Regions from separate parts of the Homo sapiens genome. Here region 1 is linked to region 2. Evidence: fine-mapped expression QTL. A gene starts in region 2. The other region holds a variant in brackets. All regions are shown on one strand. Distances are from middle to middle. Region 1 has its middle 8.6 kb from the start of GIMAP1. Region 2 holds the start of GIMAP8 (GTPase, IMAP family member 8).

Region 1 (5,374 bases), 260 kb before region 2:
ACCTTGGGCAGTATGGCCATTTTCACGATATTGATTCTTCCTACCCATGAGCATGGAATGTTCTTCCATTTGTTTGTGTCCTCTTTTATTTCATTGAGCAGTGGTTTGTAGTTCTCCTTGAAGAGGTCCTTCACATCCCTTGTAAGTCGGATTCCTAGGTATTTTATTCTCTTGGAAGCAATTGTGAATGGGAGTTCACTCATGATTTGGCTCTCTGTTTGTCTGTTGTTGGTGTATAAGAATGCTTGTGATTTTTGTACATTGATTTTGTATCCTGAGACTTTGCTGAAGTTGCTTATCAGCTTAAGGAGATTTTGGGCTGAGACAATGGGGTTTTCTAGATATACAATCATGTCGTCTGCAAACAGGGACAATTTGACTTCCTCTTTTCCTAATTGAGTACCCTTTATTTCCTTCTCCTGCCTAATTGCCCTGGCCAGAACTTCCAACACTATGTTGAATAGGAGTGGTGAGAGAGGGCATCCCTGTCTTGTGCCAGTTTTCAAAGGGAATGCTTCCAGTTTTTGTCCATTCAGTATGATATTGGCTGTGGGTTTGTCATAGATAGCTCTTATTATTTTGAAATACGTCCCATCAATACGTAATTTATTGAGAGTTTTTAGCATGAAGGTTGTTGAATTTTGTCAAAGGCCTTTTCTGCATCTATTGAGATAACCATGTGGTTTTTGTCTTTGGTTCTGTTTATATGCTGGATTACATTTATTGATTTGCATATATTGAACCAGCCTTGCATCCCAGGGATGAAGCCCACTTGATCATGGTGGAGAAGGTTTTTGATGTGCTGCTGGATTCGGTTTGCCAGTATTTTATTGAGGATTTTTGCATCAAAGTTCATCGAGGATATTGGTCTAAAATTCTCTTTTTTGGTTGTGTCTCTGCCCGGCTTTGGTATCAGGATGATGCTGGCCTCATAAAATGAGTTAGGGAGGATTCCCTCTTTTTCTGTTGATTGGAATAGTTTCAGAAGGAATGGTACCAGTTCCTCCTTGTACCTCTGGTAGAATTCAGCTGTGAATCCATCTGGTCCTGGACTCTTTTTGGTTGGTAAGCTATTGATTATTGCCACAATTTCAGAGCCTGCTATTGGTCTATTCAGAGATTCAACTTCTTCCTGGTTTAGTCTTGGGAGAGTGTATGTGTTGAGGAATTTATCCATTTCTTCTAGATTTTCTAGTTTATTTGCGTAGAGGTGTTTGTAGTATTCTCTGATGGTAGTTTGTGTTTCTGTGGAATCAGTGGTGATATCCCCTTTATCATTTTTTATTGCGTCTATTTGATTCTTCTCTCTTTTTTTATTAGTCTTGATAGCGGTTTATCAATTTTGTTGATCCTTTCAAAAAACCAGCTCCTGGATTCATTAATTTTTTGAAGAGTTTTTTGTGTCTCTATTTCCTTCAGTTCCACTCTGATTTTAGTTATTTCTTGCCTTCTGCTAGCTTTTGAATGTGTTTGCTCTTGCTTCTCTAGTTCTTTTAATTGTGATGTTAGGGTGTCAATTTTGGATCTTTCCTGCTTTCTCTTGTGGGCATTTAGTGCTATAAATTTCCCTCTACACACTGCTTTGAATGCGTCCCAGAGATTCTGGTATGTTGTGTCTTTGTTCTCGTTGGTTTCAAAGAATATCTTTATTTCTGCCTTCATTTCGTTATGTACCCAGTAGTCATTCAGGATCAGGTTGTTCAGTTTCCATGTATTTGAGCAGTTTTGAATGAGATTCTTAATCCTGAGTTCTAGTTTGATTGCACTGTGGTCTGAGAGATAGTTTGTTATAATTTCTGTTCTTTTACATTTGCTGAGGAGAGCTTTACTTCCAAGTATGTGGTCAATTTTGGAATAGGTGTGGTGTGGTGCTGAAAAAAATGTATATTTTGTTGATTTGGGGTGGAGTGTTCTGTAGATGTCTATTAGGTCTGCTTGGTGCAGAGCTGAGTTCAATTCCTGGGTATCCTTGTTGACTTTCTGTCTCATTGAATTGTCTAATGTTGACAGTGGGGTGTTAAAATCTCCCACTATTAATGTGTTGGAGTCTAAGTCTCTTTGTAGGTCACTCAGGAGTTGCTTTATGAATCTGGGTGCTCCTGCATTTGGTGCATATATATTTAGGATAGTTAGCTCTTCTTGTTGAATTGATCCCTTTACCATTATATAATGGCCTTCTTTGTCTCTTTTGATCTTTGTTGGTTTAAAGTCTGTTTTATCAGAGACTAGGATTGCAACCCCTGCCTTTTTTTGTTTTCCGTTTGCTTGGTAGATCTTCCTCCATCCTTTTATTTTGAGCCTATGTGTGTCTCTGCACGTGAGATGGGTTTCCTGAATACAGCACACTGATGGGTCTTGACTCTTTATCCAATTTGCCAGTCTGTGTCTTTTAATTGGAGAATTTAGTCCATTTTCATTTATAGTTAATATTGTTATGTGTGAATTTGATCCTGTCATTATGATGTTAGCTGGTTATTTTGCTCGTTAGTTCATGCAGTTTCTTCCTAGTCTCGATGGTCTTTACATTTTGGCATGAGTTTGCAGTGGCTGGTACCGGTTGTTCCTTTCCATGTCTAGTGCTTCCTTCAGGAGCTCTTTTAGGGCAGGCCTGGTGGTGACAAAATTCGTCAGCATTTGCTTGTCTGTAAAGTATTTTATTTCTCCTTCACTTATGAAGCTTATTTTGGCTGGATATGAAATTCTGGGTTGAAAATTCTTTTCTTTAAGAATGTTGAATATTGGCCCCCACTCTCTTCTGGCTTGTAGAGTTTTTGCTGAGAGATCTGCTGTTAGTCTGATGGGCTTCCCTTTGAGGGTAACCCGACCTTTCTCTCTGGCTGCCCTTAACATTTTTTCCTTCATTTCAACTTTGGTGAATCTGACAATTATGTGTCTTGGAGTTGCTCTTCTCGAGGAGTATCTTTGTGGCGTTCTCTGTATTTCCTGAATCTGAATGTTGGCCTGCCTTGCTAGATTGGGGAAGTTCTCCTGGATAATATCCTGCAGAGTGTTTTCCAACTTGGTTCCATTCTCCCCGTCACTTTCAGGTACACCAATCAGATGTAGATTTGGTCTTTTCACATAGTCCTATATTTCTTGGAGGCTTTGCTCATTTCTTTTTATTCTTTTTTTCT[T/C]TAAACTTCCCTTCTCGCTTCATTTCATTCATTTCATCTTCCATTGCTGACACCCTTTCTTCCAGTTGATCGCATTGGCTCCTGAGGCTTCTGCATTCTTCACGTAGTTCTCGAGCCTTGGTTTTCAGCTCCATCAGCTCCTTTAAGCACTTCTCTGTGTGGGTTATTCTAGTTATACATTCTTCTAAACTTTTTTCAAAGTTTTCAACTTCTCTGCCTTCGGTTTGAATGTCCTCCGGTAGCTCAGAGTAATGTGATCGTCTGAAGCCTTCTTCTCTCAGCTCGTCAAAGTCATTCTCTGTCCAGCTTTGTTCCATTGCTGGTGAGGAACTGCGTTCCTTTGGAGGAGGAGAGGTGCTCTGCTTTTTAGAGTTTCCAGTTTTTCTGCTCTGTTTTTTCCCTATCTTTGTGGTTTTATCTACTTTTGGTCTTTGATGATGGTGATGTACAGATGGGTTTTTGGTGTGGATGTCCTTTCTGTTTGTTAGTTTTCCTTCTAACAGACAGGACCCTTAGCTGCAGGTCTGTTGGAGTACCCGGCCATGTGAGGTGTCAGTCTGCCCCTGCTGGGGGGTGCCTCCCAGTTAGGCTGCTCGGGGGTCAGGGGTCAGGGACCCAGTTGAGGAGGCAGTCTGCCAGTTCTCAGATCTCCAGCTGCATGCTGGGAGAACCACTGCTCTCTTCAAAGCTGTCAGACAGGGACATTTAAGTCTGCAGAGGTTACTGCTGTCTTTTTGTTTGTCTGTGCCCTGCCCCCAGAGGTAGAGCCTACAGAGGCAGGCAGGCCTCCTAGAGCTGTGGTGGGCTCCACCCAGTTGGAGCTTCCTGGCTGCTTTGTTTACCTAAGCAAGCCTGGGCAATGGCGGGCGCCCCTTCCCCAGCGTTGCTGCCACCTTGCAGTTTGATCTCAGTCTGCTGTGCTAGCAATCAGCGAGACTCCATGGGCATAGGACCCTCCGAGCCATGCGCGGGATATAATCTCCTGGTGCGCTGTTTTTTAAGCCTGTTGGAAAAGCACAGTATTTGGGTGGGAGTGACCTGATTTTCCAGGTGCCGTCTGTCACCCCTTTCTTTGACTAGGAAAGGGAACTCCCTGACCCCTTGCACTTCCTGAGTGAGGCAATGCCTCGCCCTGCTTTGGCTCACGCATGGTGCATGCACCCACTGACCTGCACCCACTGTCTGGCACTCCCTAGTGAGATGAACCCGGTACCTCAGATGGAAATGCAGAAATCACCCATCTTCTGCGTCGCTCACACTGGGAGCTGTAGACCAGAGCTGTTCCTATTCAGCCATCTTGGCTCCTCCCCACCTTTCCTGACTTTTTAATGTTTGCCATTCTAACTGGCGTGAGATGGTATCTCATTGTGGTTTTGATTTGCATTTCTCTAATGACCAGTGATGATGAGCTTTTTTGCATATGTTTGCGACTGCATAAATGTCTTTTTTTGAAAAGTGTCTGTTCATATACTTTGCCCACTTTTTGATGGGGTTGTTTGTTTTTTTCTTGTAAATTTATCTAAGTTCTTTGTAGATTCTGGATATTAGCCCTTTGTCAGATGGATAGATTGCAAAATTTTTCTCCCATTCTGTAGGTTGTCTGTTCACTCTGAAAATAGTTTCTTTTGCTATGCAGACACTGTTTAGTTTAATTAGATCCCATTTGTCAATTTTAGCTTTTGTTGCCATTGCTTTTGGTGTTTTAGTCATGAAGTCTTTGCCCATGCCTATGTCCTGAATGATATTGCCTAGGTTTTATTCTAGGGTTTTTATGGTTTTAGGTCTTAGGTTTAAGTCTTTAATCCATCTTGAGTTAATTTTTGTATAAGGTGTAAGGAAGTGGTCCAATTTCAGTTTTCTGCATATGGCTAGTCAGTTTTCCCATCACCATTTATTAAATAGGGAATCCTTTCCCCATTTCTTGTTTTTGTCAGGGTTGTCAAAGATCAGATAGTTGTAGATGTGTGGTGTTATTTCTGAGGCCTCTGTTCTGTTCCACTGGTCTATTTATCTGTTTTGGTACGAGTACCATGCTGTTTTGGTTACTGTAGCCTTGTAGTATAGTTTGAAGTCGGGTAGCATGATGCCTCCAGTTTGTTCTTTTTGCTTAGTGTGAAAATGGCCATACTGCCCAAAGTAATTTATAGATTCAATGCTATCCATATCTATTTGTTGTCTTTATAGTAATTTGACGTGTAAAGTTAGGTTGCTTATTTGAGATTGCTCTTCTTTTTTTTCTA
Region 2 (5,374 bases):
CCCACAAGGGCCTTGGCAGAGGCCTCTCTCTGGAATCATCTGGATGGCTGCACGGCACGGGGCAGAGCCCACCGCAGCTTCAGACACCTCAGAACCTCAGAACCGGTCCACCAGGGGAAAAATATTTCCGGTGGGTTCAAACCTAATCAGCACCGGGGATCTTCTAAGAGCATCTTTCACCCAGATACACCCTATGGAGAGAAGCTCTCACACTAATGCCCTATCTCCTCTCTCTCCTCAATTTTCTTCATAACATTGATTCTATCTGATATTATTTATATTTTATAATTATTTATTAATTTTATTTTTAAATGTCTAAATGTTCTCTGTACTACCCTTGGTACAAAGCTCCATAACAGCATGTGCTGAAACTCCAAACATGCCTGTTTTGTTCTGTGTCCCCAGGCCCTAACATTGTGCCTGGCATGTAGTATATGCCCAATACGTGGAGGTAAAGGAATGAACGATCACAGGAGAGACAGAAATGTGAAGAAAAGAAGAAAAACGGTTTTTAGAACTGAGAGGGAGGCCGGGCGCAGTGGCTCACGCCTGTAACCCCAACACTTTCAGAGGCCAAGGCAGGTAGATCCCTCGAGATCAGGAGTTTGAGACCAGCCTGGTCAACATGATGAAATCCCCGTCTTTATTAAAAGTACAAAAATTAGCCAGGCATGGTGGTGGGTGCCTGTAGTTCCACTCGCATGTATATATATATATATATATATATATATATATATATCTCACACACACACACACACACATATACACACATATATATACATATATACACATATATACATATATACATACATATATACATATATATACATATATACATACACACACACATATATATGCAAGTGAAGTGAGATGTCTCTGTAAATTAATTTAAGAAAAAAAGACACTAGTGAGAAAACAGCAAGCTGAAGGAAGCAGAGGCCTCCCACAGGTCTGAAGAAGAAAGAAATTTCTTTCCCAATTAAGCGACACAGCCTTGCATGGTTCCCCAGCAGAGTATGACCAAACCAATGAGTCTTGGCTGGACTCCTGCCTGCAGCTCCACATGATGTCAGGACCTACACACACACACCCACATACACACACGCACATGCACACTCCTACCACACATACAGCTTCCCAGCCAGTAGCACTTCACCCCAACATGTAGAAAGTGCACTTAAGGACAAAAAGGTACCCAAACTCACCCTCACTCACGCTCTGCCAGCCCACATTTCCCTCTGCTCAATTTCCCAGGCCACTCTGGAGACCCCAGCAGAGCAACTGAGAGAAAAAGAGAGCGTTCTTCCTATAATTCACTGAAGACTGTAAAGGCAGCCTCTGCCTCCTTCTCAGGAAACAGCCCAAGGCAAACGTGGACTCAGGCATCTGAGCACAGCATCCAGCCATGCGGGGATTCATCCCACATCTAATCGCAGTTCCCACTTACAGAGCAGGGTGGTTGGAGATGCCTCCAGAGCCCAGCGTGGGGAAGACCTTAGACCCAGCCCAGCAGGGCAACCATCAAGAGGAAGGGAAGAGGTTAACTGCTGAGGACCAGGTTGGCTGAAATGTAGGTGAAATCAGAAATATTGCTTTTGGTAAGGTCTTGACCCCTCCAATCCCTCCAATGCCCAGTTCACAGAATCCTAACTGTGCAAGGGGCAGGAAAGATCAGAAAAGCAGACGTGGAAAAATCAGCATCCCCCACCCCCTGCTTTGCGGGAGGAGCTCCGCTGGCTTCCTCCTGGGGGCTGCTCTGCGGCACCATCTAGCTTCATGGGGCATCTGACCGGCTGCTTCCGCCTGCTTCTTCCTCCCTTCTGCCAGTCTCAGCCCTCCTCCTCTTCAGGGCTCACACCCACTCCCCGACACGCCTTCTTTTAGGACAGCCACTCTCATAGATGTCTGGGAATATGCCTCTGTCCCCATCCTGCCGAATCTACTCCCCAGCAGGCTGGGGAGACACGCTTTGGACCAGGAGGAAAGCTTCCCAGGGCCCCTGCCATTCAACTCTGCCATTCAACCCTGCCATTCAACCCAGCCTCCTCTCCCATGGCTGAGCAGGCTGCCTTCCCGGTGCCAAGCCCATCCTCCCCCACAGCCATGCACCAGTGCACACACATCTACACACGAGTGCACATGTCACACATGCACTGCGGTCGTGTCCCATGGGGTCCCACGGCGTCCCACAGTCTCCGAGGCTCCGCAATCCACCTGGCTCTATCCCTCCATCTCTCACCTGGGTGGAAGCAGCTGCTGGTCCCCCAGGGCACAGGATGTGAGGAAGGTGAGGAGGGTGAGGGGAGAATGGCCGGAGAGCGACCCTCTTCCCAGGCCCTGGTCTTCCTGGCAGGAGGGTTTCGGGTGTTTCTGCAAAGGAAGAGATTTCTAGAAATAGCCTTCACATCCACAGAGGCATAAATGCAGTCGGAGAGGAAGTTCCCTGTGCAGGCCACAGGCTCAGAACCTCGAGAGCCGTCGGGGCTCAGGGAGGAGCCAGCATCGGGGACACACGCGCCTTCCCTGGGTGCTGAGCGCCTCGTGGGGTCACAACACAGCAGAAACTGAGGAGCCCGGCCCGTCCCGCAGCTGCAGACTGAGAGGAGGGAGGAGAAATGACAGCAGAGGCTTGGCCAGGGGCTGGGGCGCCGGGGCCGGTGCCAGGCTGAGCTTCAGAAGGGCTGCAAGAACAGGGGCTTGGATAGGGCAGGAAAAGGACGTCAAGCCAGTTCCTGTTCCTGAGAGGACAGAGATTGTGGCGCCGCTACAAGCTCTGAGCAAAGCCAGCTCCGGGCCTCTGTGTGCCCTTAAGTGGCCTTTAGGACTTCCTCTCACAAGTCCTTCCTCGCTTCCCTTCCCTTCCCTAAAACCCACAACCCGGGGAACTCCAAGCCTGACAGACCAACGCTGCTTCTCAGGGAATGAATGCTTTTCCCCAGCTTGCAAAACGTGAAATGCTAGACTTCGATGCTTTCAAATATTTCACAAAATGAAATCCCTTTTGTGAAAGAACATAGTGTCCAAACTACCTGGTCTCTACTTCATAAGGAAGTCAAACACGGAGGAAGACTTCTTAAAAAATGTTTACTAGGGTAAAAATGATGTAACATTAATAGTACCATCCTAACCATTTCTAAGTGTATAGCCCACAGTAGAAAGTACATTCACATGGTTGTGTGCCAGATCTGCAGGACTTTTCATCCTGCAGCACCCAAACTCTCCCCATTACACCCCAACTCACCTCCCCGAACCCCAGCCCGGGTAACCACCGTTCTACTTTCCGTTTCTATGATTTTTTTTTTTTTTTTGAGACAGAGTCTTGCTCTGTCGCCCAGGCTGGAGTGCAATGGTGTGATCTCGGCTCACTGCAACCTCCACCTCCCGAGTTCAAGCAATTCTCCTGCCCCAGCCTCCCGAGTAGCTGGGATTACAGGTTCCCGCCACCACACACGGCTAATATTTGTATTTTTAGTAGAAACGGGGTTTCACCATGTTGGCCAGGCTGGTCTTGAACTCCTGACCTCAAGTGATCCACCTGCCTCAGCCTCCCAAAGCGCTGGGATTACAGGTGTGAGCCACCACACCCGGCCTGTTTCTATGATTTTTGGCAACGTCAGATACTCATGTGAGTGGAGTCCCACAGTGTCTGCCCTCCTGAGACTGAGCAGAATGCCCTAGAGGTTCATCCAAGTGAGTGCGGGACCCTCTGCGCTCTGCACAGCAGGGCCCTCTTCACAGGATGCAGAGGCTAGGGCCTCGAGGGACTGGAGCTCAAGTTAGTTTTCCAAATGTCTGAGGTGGTGCTAAGCTTTCCAAAGGGACCCCGCAGAAGGAGGAGCAGTGGGGGTGGCTGAAGTAGAGGGGCATGCTTCAGATATGAAGTCTCTACAGTAGTCAAAACCACAGGCTTTGGGGAGCTGCTGTCAGCCTATCACATCCCGAGGGATCCACCCTCCCCCTGGACTGGTCTTCATGCGCCAGCCTTGAGGACTGCTCTACCTTGTTATGAACCTGAGGGAAACCCTGGTTATGCTGGGATGGCTCAAGAAGAGCTTTGGGGACACACAGGACACATCTTGATGGGGAAAGCTGACAAAGCCCTTCCCATGTCCCACTCTACCTGTCTCCTCATTGAAAGAGGATCTATTTTGGAAGAACCCCACCCTTCCTTTACAGTAGGTCAACGCACATAAAACCAACTCATTATAATGAAAAGACAAAAACCCGAAGCCAGGTACTGCAGTTCATCCCCGCTGGGGTACTAACAGAGGCAGAGGCTCAGCAAGAAACTGTTTCCCCAAAATAGAGAAGAAAAGGCTCACTCATTCTTAAATGAAATATTAAGCATCCAGGGATTGCTCTAAGTAAAACTGAAGCTGCAAATAACTCCTCAAAGATTCAGCAAGTCGATTATTTGCTGAGTTGACCATTTTGCAAAATGATCTTTCAGCAAATCAGCTCCTAGAGAATTGATTTCCGTGCAGAAGGCAGGCTGCCGGGTTCTGGTTTGGCACCGATCTGAGGCAGGATGGGGGCTCCCTGCCCCCTAGTGGCTTTGTGGCTAATGACAAGTGCAGCAAAATGCTCCCCAGCGGGCCGAGAGCCCTGACTCAGCAGGCAGGTGAAACACTGGGGAGAAGTTCTAGACTTCCAGAAATCGAATAAGCCAGGAAGACACATGTTATGCAAGCAAGGAGAAATCTACCAGGACCAAGCACCGTATTAGACACAGAGGGCACAAAGATTAGCAAGGCAAATACCTGACTCAAAGGGGCCCTAACTCAGTCTGAGGATGGGGAAGAGACTACGCTGTGGTCACGAAACGAGGTAATGTGCTGTGATAGAGATGCGTCCAGGCTGCCACGCAAGTGAGGAGGAGACGATGTAAACCCCGCAAGATGGAAAAACAACCAATTGGGGAAATAAACTTATAAACAAATCCGTAAACCCGCCATTTCCTGTGGCAGGTACTGACGGAGTGGTAGAGACGGAGTTTCACTATGTCCTGCCATGGAGAAGATTGTAAGGCACAGTGAAGGGAAGGCCGCGCGGGAAAGGTAATGCCTAAGTCTTGAAGGGCTGTAACATTTGCCTGTCAGATGACGGAGGGAGGACGCCTCAGGCAGACGGAGAATGGCAAACGCCACCGGCATCGGGGCCCTAAGACAGCCCAGCAGGTGCGAGAAAACGCAGTCAGGCTGGAGACAGAAGGACCGGTCAGAGGCTGCTGCAGCACCCAAGCTAGAAATGAGGAGAACTAACGCAGAGACAGCAGCAAGGGGAACAGATTTATTACAAATAGAAACAATAAGGCCGGGCCTGGTGGCTCATGCCTGTAATCCCAGCACTTCCTGGGAGGCCGAGGCCGGCGGCT

What was found. PIP is the estimated chance that this variant, and not a neighbour inherited with it, causes the effect. A credible set is the group of variants that fine-mapping cannot tell apart.
Region 1: its variant is the best candidate, but not a certain one, in a credible set for the expression of GIMAP8 in unexposed skin (GTEx, PIP 0.78).

Annotation. Positions count from the first base shown.
Region 1 is chr7:150,705,309-150,710,682 of GRCh38, reverse strand. No RefSeq gene overlaps it. Among named protein-coding and RNA genes, the nearest start is that of GIMAP1, 8.6 kb to the left of the region's middle. RefSeq lists an enhancer at 3,545-4,044. The variant T/C (reference allele first, on the strand shown) is at 3,135.
Region 2 is chr7:150,448,041-150,453,414 of GRCh38, reverse strand. GIMAP8 (GTPase, IMAP family member 8) reads right to left here and starts at 2,785. Exons shown (of 5, transcript NM_175571.4): 1 at 2,240-2,785. LINC00996 (long intergenic non-protein coding RNA 996) reads right to left here. Exons shown (of 4, transcript NR_034033.1): 4 at 5,275-5,374.